Linked DNA regions of Homo sapiens: region 1 is linked to region 2. A link means that fine-mapping ties the variant in region 2 to the expression of a gene that starts in the linked region. Tissue or cell type: whole blood. Region 2 holds a variant in brackets; the other region holds the start of a gene. All regions are shown on one strand. Distances are from middle to middle. Region 1 holds the start of PPP4C (protein phosphatase 4 catalytic subunit). Region 2 has its middle 9.4 kb from the start of TLCD3B.

What was found. PIP is the estimated chance that this variant, and not a neighbour inherited with it, causes the effect. A credible set is the group of variants that fine-mapping cannot tell apart.
Region 1: PPP4C starts here. The variant in region 2 is the best candidate, but not a certain one, in a credible set for the expression of PPP4C in whole blood (TOPMed, PIP 0.60).

The regions. Positions count from the first base shown.
Region 1 is chr16:30,073,315-30,078,687 of GRCh38, reverse strand. PPP4C (protein phosphatase 4 catalytic subunit) reads right to left here and starts at 2,694. Exons shown (of 9, transcript NM_002720.3): 1 at 2,594-2,694; 2 at 2,213-2,373. The coding sequence starts at 2,310. RefSeq lists enhancers at 2,081-2,170, 3,793-3,972 and a silencer at 2,281-2,420.
Region 2 is chr16:30,038,019-30,043,391 of GRCh38, reverse strand. It overlaps a transcript of TLCD3B not described here. Among named protein-coding and RNA genes, the nearest start is that of TLCD3B, 9.4 kb to the right of the region's middle. The variant AG/G (reference allele first, on the strand shown) is at 2,733.

The sequences.
Region 1 (5,373 bases), 35 kb before region 2:
CTGCGGACCTCTGTGCTTCCACTGGTTTCATCTGCATGTCTGTGCCCTCTAGGCAAGCTGGTGCTCTTGACACCACCAGCCTCAGCCTGGGTCTCTGATGGGTCCCCAGGAGGCCATAACCAGGTATCAGAGATGGCCCTGCTTCAGACTGAGCCTGGGACAACAGCGGCCAACTCAGGCCTTGGCCTAGTACCTCCTAGTTCCACTCAGTTTCAACTGGGCAGGACCCTCCACCCCTCAGCCTTCCATGGCTTCCTGCTGCCTCACACCCCACATCAAAATCTAAATGCCTCTGCCTGGCTCTCAGTGACCACGGAGCACAGTCAAAGACCTGGATGCAAAACTAACTTCCCCTCCGACTAGCTGCGTGATGTTGGGCAAGACATTATCTACTCAAAGGCTCAGTTTCCTCTGCTATGAAATGGGGCTAAGTACTCAGCCCACCCTGCGTATTCCTTAGGCTGTTGCAAGGAGCCATGGAGACTGAATATACGACTTCCTGCTATTCTGCAAACTCCAGCATGCTATCTAAGCTTTGTCTACCATCACCACCACACTGATCCAGGGCCCGTGAGGGAGACAATACTTCGAGGTTAAAGAATAGTGCCAGGCAACAACAGGTTTAAGTTCCTAAAAATGCCAATCAGGACTGAGGGAAAGGGGACAACTAAAAACACCATGGGGCTGGTCTGGTCAGCTGGCAAAAGAGAAAAGCCACAGACAGGTGGCGAAAAAGAGGCCGACCCTGCTCATCATCCCCTCACAGGCCCTGTCTGGCTGCAGGTAGTCTATGTGAGGCAGGGCCAGGCAAAGAGCCTGAGGGCCACAGATTCAGGACCCAGCTCTGCCACGTCCTCAGTGGGTGACCTCAGTTAAGTCACCAGACCTCTACGAGTCATGGCTTCCTATTCGATAAAATGCAGCAAATGATTCCAACCTCATAGGATTGCTGGGGGGAAGAGATGGATAGAAGTTTTTTGCCAGTACCGGGCCAGGCCAAATAGTGGCCCTGTAAAGGCCAATGTTTACTGTTCAATAAACGTAGGGTAATTCTGTGGGCTCTTCTGCCACAATTCTCCAGCCTGGTAGAAGCCACAATCACACAGTTCCCCAGAGGAGGCAGGTAATTAAACCCCTGACTGTTCCCCACGCATCTCAGGGCCTCCACTGTTACATTCGTCCTGCTTGGAATGCCCTTCCCTCACTGGCCCTGCCTCCATCAGCTAGCCAAATTATCTTCATCCTTCAAGGCCTACCTCCACTCAAAAGCCCTCCCTGATGGCTTTAGCCCATCTCATTATTGCCCTCTTCCAAAAGAAATAGAATACCTGGTGATTATCAAGCACGTATGCTGTACCAAAACACTGTGCTAACCTCATCTCCAGCACCAACTCACTGAATCTTCACAATCATCTTATTAAGTACTATTAATTCTGCTTTACAAATAAAGACACTTAAGATTACTAACACAGCTAGAAAGCGGCAGAGTTCAGATTCAAACCTAGAGCCATCTCACACTGCAAAACCTAGAGCCTTAACCACTACATCATCCTACTTCCCACAGAACTCTGAACTGGCCTCCCTATCGTGCTTAATTCTACCCTGGCTTACTTGCTACGATTTCTCAGGCTCCCACCCTGAACGTGAATGATCCAACTCCACCTTTTTGCATTATGGCCTGAAAAAGGACAGGACACTAAGAGCTGGCTTCAGACCCCATTCCTTACTTGTGGGTAACTTTGAACATGAAAGTTCCCACCTGTAAAATGAGTACAATACCACCAATCTTTAAGGGTTGTTGTAATTAGAAGACTTTTATAAATCACAGGGTCTTTAACTTTCCTGTCTTAAACTTTTGGTTTTTGGCTGACTCTTTTACCACCTCCTTATTCGAGGCCTCTCCCACAGTTCGGCCCCCCTCCAACAAGCTTCCGTCCCCCGACAGATGGACTTGTTTCCTTGAGTTTCCTAAGTACTTTATGTAACACTCTTACTCCACTGGAAACACATCGTCTAATAAACTTTAAGTGTCTTTATCCACTCTGTCTTCCCCGAGCAGGCTAGCTTTTCCTCGAGGGCAGCGGCTCCATCCTGCTCCTCTCTGGGAAAGCTTCCAGAACGAGGCAAGCCCAAAGTTCTCAGTTGGGTTTGCCCCAGGCCAGAACCCGTGGGCGGCGGCTTGGCCTCCCTTCCCCAGGGCCAACGAGCTCACCTGGCCTTAGCGCACAGGGCCTTGACTTCGCTCTCCTTGATGAGCTCGCAGCGACGCAGCTGCTCGATCTGCCGGTCCAGGTCGCTGATCTCCGCCATGGCCCACCCCCGGCGCGGGTCAGAGTCGGGGCCGCCGCCCCCTCCGCACCGCACAGGGGTCTCCTGGGAAAGGCCAAGACGAGCCCGCGGATCAGTGTCCGTCCGGGGCTCGGAGCGGACAACTCGATTCTAGAGCCGGCCCGGCTCCCCCACCCCCGCCTCCCCTCACATCGGCCCCAGGACCCCCCGGCGTCCAACGGCCTGGCCGCACCCCCGCTAACTCCCGTCGAACCCCGCGGTCCCGCGCTAAGGACGGTGACTTAGAGGAGTCTCGCACTATTACCGCCGCTGCGACTCCGGTTCCGGCTCTCCGGCTCCCTGCCTCCCTCTTTCACTCCGCTTTCGACCGCCGCCGCCGCCGCCGCCGCCGCTCCTACTTCCGGCCCCGCCGCGGAAGCAAAGGAGGCCAGTTCCGCCGCGCGCCGGATGTGGCGTCATACACGCTCCTCTCCTTTCGCAGCGACCCCTGCACCACTTCTCCAGCCTGAGATCGGGAAGGAGGTGGAGGAACCCGGTGGCGGCCAGTGGCAGTTTTGTGGGCTCTGCCGCTGGGCGATGTGGAGGCTATTAGAAACCCTAGACCAGTCCCCTCCCATATCATTTCATAAAAATGTTTAAACAACTGTCTTTTCTTTTTTTGAGACGGAGTTTTGCTGTTGCCCAGGCCGGGGTGCAATGGCACGAACTCGGCTCACCGCAACTTCCGCCTCCCGGGTTCCAGCAATTCTCCTGCCTCAGCCTCCTGAGTAGCTGGGATTACAGGCATGCGCTACCACGCTGGGCTAATTTTGTATTTTTAATAGAGACGGGGTTTCTCCATGTTGGTCAGGCTGGTCTCTAACTCCCTACCTCAGGTGATCCGCGCCCCCACCCACCACCACCCTTCGGCCTCCCAAAGTGCTGGGATTACAGGCGTGAGCCACCGCGCCCGGCCACAACTTTCTTTTTTCTAAATTAGAGACAGGGTCTCGCTCTATCGCTCAGGCTGGAGTCGGTGGGGCTATCATAGGTCACTGTGACCTCGAACTCCTGGGCACAAGCTATCTTCCCGCCTCGGGCCTCCCAAAGTGCTGGGATTACAGGCGTGAGCCACCGCGCCCGGCCATCCCCCATTTCAGCTAGGGAAACAAGCCGAGCTGGGGCTAGGCTTTGTAACTTTATTACACTTTTTTTTTTTAACATTACACTTTTTTTTTAATGTTACACATTTTTGTTACTTGTTTTGTCAGCCTTCCCCACCACAGTCCTTGGAGGATCCAACTTTGTCTTTTTAAATATTGCAGCCCCAGTGGTTAGAATAAGGCCTGGCACGGTAGGCATATATAGATACTTGTTAATACTTGTTCAATGGATGAGGGAAGCCAAGTTCAGATCTCTTCCTGTGCCGTCAGAGAAATATTTGCCGTGGACAACTTCAGAAGTTAACAGATTGGAGTCCACTTTTCCCACGCCAAGCCTGTGCCTCAGTCAGCATGACTTCTCTGATTCCAAAATGGCACTCTTGACATTTCTTAGTTGCTTCCGTTTTTCTTTTTGAGACAGAGTCTCACTCTCTCGCTCTGTCGCCCAGGCTGCAGTCCAGTGGCGCCATCTCGGCTCACTGCAAGCTCCGCCTCCCGGGTTCACGCCATTCTCTTGCCTCTGCCTCCTGAATAGCTGGGACTACAGGCGCCCGCCACCAGGCCCGGCTAATTTTTTTGTATTTTTTAGTGGAGACGGGGTTTCACCGTGTTAGCCAGGATGGTCTCGATCTCCTGACCTCATGATCCACCTGCCTCAGCCTCCCAAAGTGCTGTACCACAGGCGTGTACCACCGTGCCCGGCCTCTTTTTTTTTTTTTTTTTTTTTTTTTGAGACGGAGTCTTGCTTTTTCACCCCGACTGGAGTGCAGTGGCACAATCTCGGCTCACTGCAACCTCCGCCTCCCAGGTTCAAGCGATTCTCCTGCCTCAGCCTCCCAAGTAGCTGGGATTACAGGCATGTGCCACGACGCCTGGCTAATTTTTGTATTTTCATTTATTTATTTTTTTAAGACAGAGCCTTCCTTGCTCTTGTCGCCCAGGCGGGAGTGCAGTGGAGCGATTTTGGCAAACCGCAACCTCCGCCTCCTGGGTTCAAGCAATTCTCCTGCCTCAGCCACCTGAGTAGCTGGGATTACAAGCACCCGTCACCACGCCCAGCTAATTTTTGCATTTTTAATAGAGACGGGGTTTCACCATTTTGGTCAGGCTGGTCTCGAACTCCTGACCTCAGGTGATCCACTCTCCTCGGCCTCGGAAAGTGCTGGGATTACCAGCTTGAGCCACCGTGCCTGGCTTCTTAGTTGCTTTCTATTAAGTTTTGTGCCTTTTTTAAGAGGAGGAAACTGGCTCAGAGGGGTTAAATAACTTGTTCATTGCTTGTATAACAGTGGATTGGGGATGTTACACTGAAATTTGAATCCGGGGCTAGGTGTGGTGGCTCAAGCATGTAATCCCAGCACTTTGGGAGGCCGAGGCGAATCACTTAAGCCCAGGAGTTCAAGACCAGGCTGGGCAACAGAGTGAGACCCAGTCTATAAACAAAAAGAATAAGAAACTTGGGCTGGGCGCGGTGGCTGACGCCTGTAATCCCAGCACTTTGGGAGGCTGAGGCGGGCGGATCACGAGATCAGGAGATCGAGACCATCCTGGCTAACATAGTGAAACCCCGTCTCTACTAAAAATACAAAAAAATAGCTGGGCGTGGTGGCGGGCGCCTGTAGTCCCAGCTACTTGGGAGGCTGAGGCAGGAGAATGGCGTGAACCCAGGAGGCAGAGCGTGCAGCGAGCCAAGATTGCGTCACTGGACTCCAGCCTGGGCAACAGAGCGAGACTCTGTCTCAAAAAAAAAAAAGAAAGAAATTTGAACCTGGCTGTGTGTGGTGGCTCACACCTGTAATCCCAGCACTTTGGGCAGCCGAGGCAGGTGGATCACCTGAGGTCAGGAATTCAAGATCAGCCTGACCAACATGGTGAAACCCTGTCTATCCTAAAAAATAAAAAATAATAATAATTAGGTTTGGTGATGCGCTTGTAGTCCCAG
Region 2 (5,373 bases):
AGCTGGTAGTGATGAGCCTGAGAGCCTGTAGTCCCAGCCACTTGGGAGGCTGAGGCAGGAGGATCCCCTGAGCACAGGAATTTGAGGTTACAGTGAGCTAATCGTACCAGTGTACTTCATCAAGGGAGACAAAATGAGAGACCCCGTCTCAAAAATCAAAACAAAACAAAAACCCCAGTATGTCTGTCTTAAGATTATTGTGGATATTATGTTAGTTAATATATATAAAGGGCTTAGATTGCTGCCGGATGTCTAGTAAATGCTCTATAAATGTTTGCTTTTTTTTTCTTTTGGAGACGGAGTTTTACTCTGTCACCAGGCTGGAGTGCAGTGGTCTGATCTCGGCTCACTGCAGCCTCTGCCTTTCAGTTTCAAGCAATTCTCCTGCCTCAGCTTCCTGAGTAGCTGGGATTACAGGCGTGTGCCACCACGCCTGGCTAATTTTTTTTGTATTTTTAGTAGAAATGGGCTTTCACCATGTTGGTCAGGCTGGTCTCAAACTCCTGACCTCATGATCCACCCACCTCGGCCTCCCAAAGCATTGCGATTACAGGTGTGAGCCACTGTGCCTGGCCTAATGTTTGCTCTTATTAGGTCAAATAGAGAAAAACAACAACAACAATAACAACAACAAAAAACACCCATAACTGACCATAACTGAGGTTTTTTTTTGTGGGGAAACAAAGGTTTGGAGAAGCTAGAGGCTGAGTTAGGATATTGGTAAGTTTCTGGATTCCCAGTCTAATTGCCAGCCATTTCAATCTTCAATAATTAATATAACCTCTCAGCTTCCACTTAATCACTTGCAAAATGGAACTAATCCTATCTCATTGGATGTTGGGATTGATGTGTATAAAGGCGGATCAGAGGCAGGGCACGGTGGCTCATGCCTGTAATCCCAACACTTTGGGAGGCCAAAGCGGGTGGATCACTTGAGGTCAGGAGTTTGAGACCAGCCTGGCCAACATGGTGAAACCCCGTCTCTACTAAAAATACAAAAATTAGCTGGGTGTGGTGGTGGGCGCCTTGGGAGACTGAGGCAGGAGAATCGCTTGAACCCAGCGGGGGCAGATTGCAGTGAGACAAGATCGTGCCACTGCACTCCAGCCTGTGCAAAAGAGTAAAACTCCATCTGAAAAAAATAAAATAAAATAAAATAAATAAGTAAATAAATAAATAAAGGCGGCTCAGAAAATGAGCATTAGGACAATGATGCCTTCTCAACTGGTATAATATCGCCCCCAAGGGGGCAAAAAACTTACTCTTTTTAATATGGAAAAGATATATGTAAATAGACATAAATATATCTGTGTTATTAAACTTTCGTGATAGGCAGCGATTAGAAAAAAAAGTGTAAAAAGGGCTCCTTAGGGGAACAATAATGAAAGAAAAATTGAGAAACACTGCTCTCCAAACCAAGATTTTTCCCGCTTGGCTTGTTTAGCCACTAGTGGGCAGTGAAATTGGCTTAATGGGTCATGATCAATATTTGGTGGAAAAATGGTCTAGAAAATTCCACAGGGCACTGCATATAGTAAGTCAGAATGTGTTGTGCAAAGGTTTTCCATTCAACGTGTGGGTGCATGAACTGCAGTCACAAAATAAAAGATATCTCGGCTGGGCGCCATGGCTCACCTCTGTAATCCCAACACTTTTTTTTTTTTTTTTTTGAGACAGAGTCCCACTCTGTGGCCCAAGCTGGAGTGCAGTGGCGTGATCTCGGCTCACTGCAAGCTCTGTCTCCCAGGTTCATGCCATTCTCCTGCCTCAGCCTCCCAAGTAGCTGGGACTACAGGCACCCACCACCATGCCCAGCTAATTTTTTGTATTTTACAAAAATTACAGGCGTGTGTAATCCCAACACTTTGGTAGGCCAAGGCGGGCAGCTCACTTGAGGTCAGGAGTTCAGACCAGCCTGGCCAATATGGTGTCTCTACTAAGAATACAAAAATTAGCCAGGCGTGGTAGCATGCACCTGTAATCCCAGCTACTTGGGAGGCTGAGGTAGGAGAATCATTTACGCAGGAGGTGGAGGTTGTAGTGAGCTGAGATTGTGCCACTGCACTCCAGCCTGGACAACAGAGTGGGACTCTGTCTCAAAAAAACAAAACAAACAAACAAAAAATAAATACATAAAGAAATAAAATAAAAGATATCTCTTGTGGGTCACTATTAAAAAAATTTAAAGCCATTGCTCAAAACCACAATTTTCTCCTCTCATATTTTCTCTCTCAGACAAGCCTGTGCAGCCTTGGACTGTTTTGCTCTCAACAAGAAGAAATCGACAAGGAAAGGAAGAAATGTAGGAGAGAGTCCAGATTCCAGTGAGACTCGGGCCTGACTCTAACCAGCTCATGGCCTGTAAACTTTCCTCCCTTCCACATTTTCTTGTCTAGGGTAAGCACAGGTGCAGAGGAAAATGACCATCCCTGGTCACACTCAGTGGCTCACGCCTGTAATCCCAGAATTCTGGGAGGCTGAAGCAGGAGGATCGCTTGAGCCCAGGAGTTGAAGACCAGCCTGGGCAACATAGCAAGATCCCATCTCTAGAAAAAAAAACCTCCCCAGATTAGCCAGGTGTGGTGGTGCACGCCTGTCATCCCAGCTACTCAGGAGGCTGAGGTGGAAGGATCACTTGAGCCCGGGAGGTGGAGGCTGCAGTGAGCTGTGATTGTGTCACTGCACTCCAGCCTGGGTGACAGAGTGAGACTCTGTCTCAAATTTAAAAAAAA[AG/G]AAAAAGAAAATAACTGCAGAGGGGTGCTACTCCTCCTCACTCCTTCTGCCTCTCCTACTCTCATCCCTTCTCTTCCCCTTTTTCCCTCTCCCACCTTCTCTCCTCCCCTCATGCCTTCCCCTCTCTTCGCCTCCTTTTCTCCAGACTTGGAAGGCAGCGGTCACATTTACCGATTTTGTCATGTACTGTATGGTCTGAAGCATGTCATTCAACTTTTCTGAGACTCAGATTTCTCAGCAGTAAAATGAGGAAGTTATTTGTAAGGTGGCATAGATGATTAAACGGGAACATGTATATAAAGTATTTCAGCCTGGTGCCTGGCATACAGTGGGTGCTCAGAATGACAGTAACTGGCTACTGGCTACCGTGTGAAGTATTGTAGTTTCTATGCATTGGCATGATTTAGTCCTCACAATGAGCTATGCAGGAGCTGGGCAAATAGCAGGGCAGGCTGCCTGGTTTCAGACCCCAGCTCAGGATCTTTTCATATATATATATATATATATATATTTTTTTTTTTTTTTGAGACAAAGTCTTGCTGTGTTGCCCAGATTGGAGTGCAGTGGCACCATCTCGGATCACTGCAACCTCCGCCTCCTGGGTTCAAGCAATTCTCCTGCCTCAGCCTCCTGAGTGATTGAGATTACGGATGTGCACCACCATACCTGGCTAATTTTTGTATTTTCAGTAGGGATGGGGTTTCGCCATGTTGGCCAGGCTGGTCTCGAACTCCTGACCTCAGGTGATCCACCCCCTTCTGCCTCCCAAAGTGCTGGGATCACAGGCGTGAGCCACCATGCCTGGCCGCTCTTGGTTTAACTTTTAATTTTCAGAGTCCCATCCAGAGGGAAGAAAATAAAGTAGCTAAAGAAGCAAACACTGGCCGAGCATGGTGGCTCATGCCTGTAATCCCAGCACTTTAGGAGGCCAAGGCAAGGGGATTGCTTGAGGCCAGGAGTTCAAGACCAGCCTGAGCAACATAGCAAGACCCCATCTCTATAAAAAGTACAAAGATTCCTTTCCATAGAACATAGCTAAAAATTTTTTTTTAAATACAAAAATTAGCTGAGTGTTGTGTGCACACCTGTAGTCCCAGCTACTCTGGAGGCTGAGGCAGAGGCTAAGGAGGATTGCTTGAGTCCAGAAGTTTGAGTCTGCAATGAGGTAGGATCATGCCATTGCATTCCAGTCTGGACAACAGAGTGAGACCCTGTCTCAAAAGAATATGAGGAAGAAGCCGGGCGCAGTGGCTCACACCTGTAATCCCAGCACTTTGGGAGGCTGAGGTGAGCAGACCACCTGAGATCAGGAGTTCGAGACCAGCCTGACCAACAGGGAGAAACCCCATATCTACTAAAAATACAAAATTAGCCAGGCGTGGTGGCGCATGGCTGTAATCCCAGCTACTCGGGAGGCTAAGGCAGGAGAATCGCTTGAATCTGGGAGGCGACGTTTGCGGTAAGCTGAGATTGCGCTATTGCGCTCCAGCCTGGATACCTGGATAACAAGAGCGAACCTCCATCTAAAAAAAAAAAAAAAAAAAAAAAAAAAAAAGAGAGGAAGGAGGAGGAGAAGGATAAGTTCTGAAAATATGAATGAGGATGTCTAAATTGTATTCAGTGGTGTTTTTTCCCTCCTTTTTAAAAAAGCCTTTCAGTTCCTTAGGAAAATAAGTTTATGTTTTCTATATCTGCCTAACATTATAGGGACAAATAAATTCAGAAAATATGATTTTAAAAAATTTTTATTCACTTCCTGACTGTTTAACCTTGGACAAGTTACCAAACCTCTCTGTGCCTCTGTTTTCTGATCTGTAAAACAGAGGTGCAGTAATAATCCCTACCCACAAGGTTGCTTTGGATAAATGACTTGATATTTTTAATTAAATTTTTTTTTTTTTGAGACAGAGTCTCGCTCTGTCGCCCAGGCTGAAGTGCAGTGGCGTGATCTCGGCTTCTCAGCTCACTGCAACCTCCGCCTCCCAGGTTCAAGCGATTCTCCTGCCTCAGCCTCCCAAGTAGCTGGGATTACAGGCACATGCCACCATGCCCAGCTAATTTTTGTATTTTTAGTAGAGATGGGGTTTCACCATGTTGGTCAGGCTGGTCTTGAACTCCTGACCTTGTGATCTGCCCGCCTTGGCCTCCCAAAGTGCTGGGATTACAGGCGTGAGCCACTGCGCCCAGCCCTTAATTGATTTTTTTAGAGACGGAGTCGCACTCTGTGGCCCAAGGCTGGAGTGCAGTCTCGTGATCAAAGCTCACTGCAGCCTCAACCTCCTGTCCTCAAGTGATCCTCTTGCCTTGGCCTCCCAAAGTGCTGGTACTACAGGTGTGCACCACCACACTTGGCCTTTTTTTTTTCTTTTAGAGTCAGAGAATGCAGATCAATGTCTGACCTGTAGTCTAAGCAGCATTTAATGATGTGACACTAATTATTAACCCAACCTCACAGATGAAGAAATTGAGGCCCATAAAGGCTTTGCCCACCATCATTCAGAGAAAGGAAGAGCCTAAATTTAGAATTTTAAAAACTGCAGCTTCACTTAAGGGGCACACATTTTAAGAGGATGCCTCGAGAATGTTTACATATGTATACACTGGTGATCAATATAAGGCCATTTCCAACACTTCAGAAGG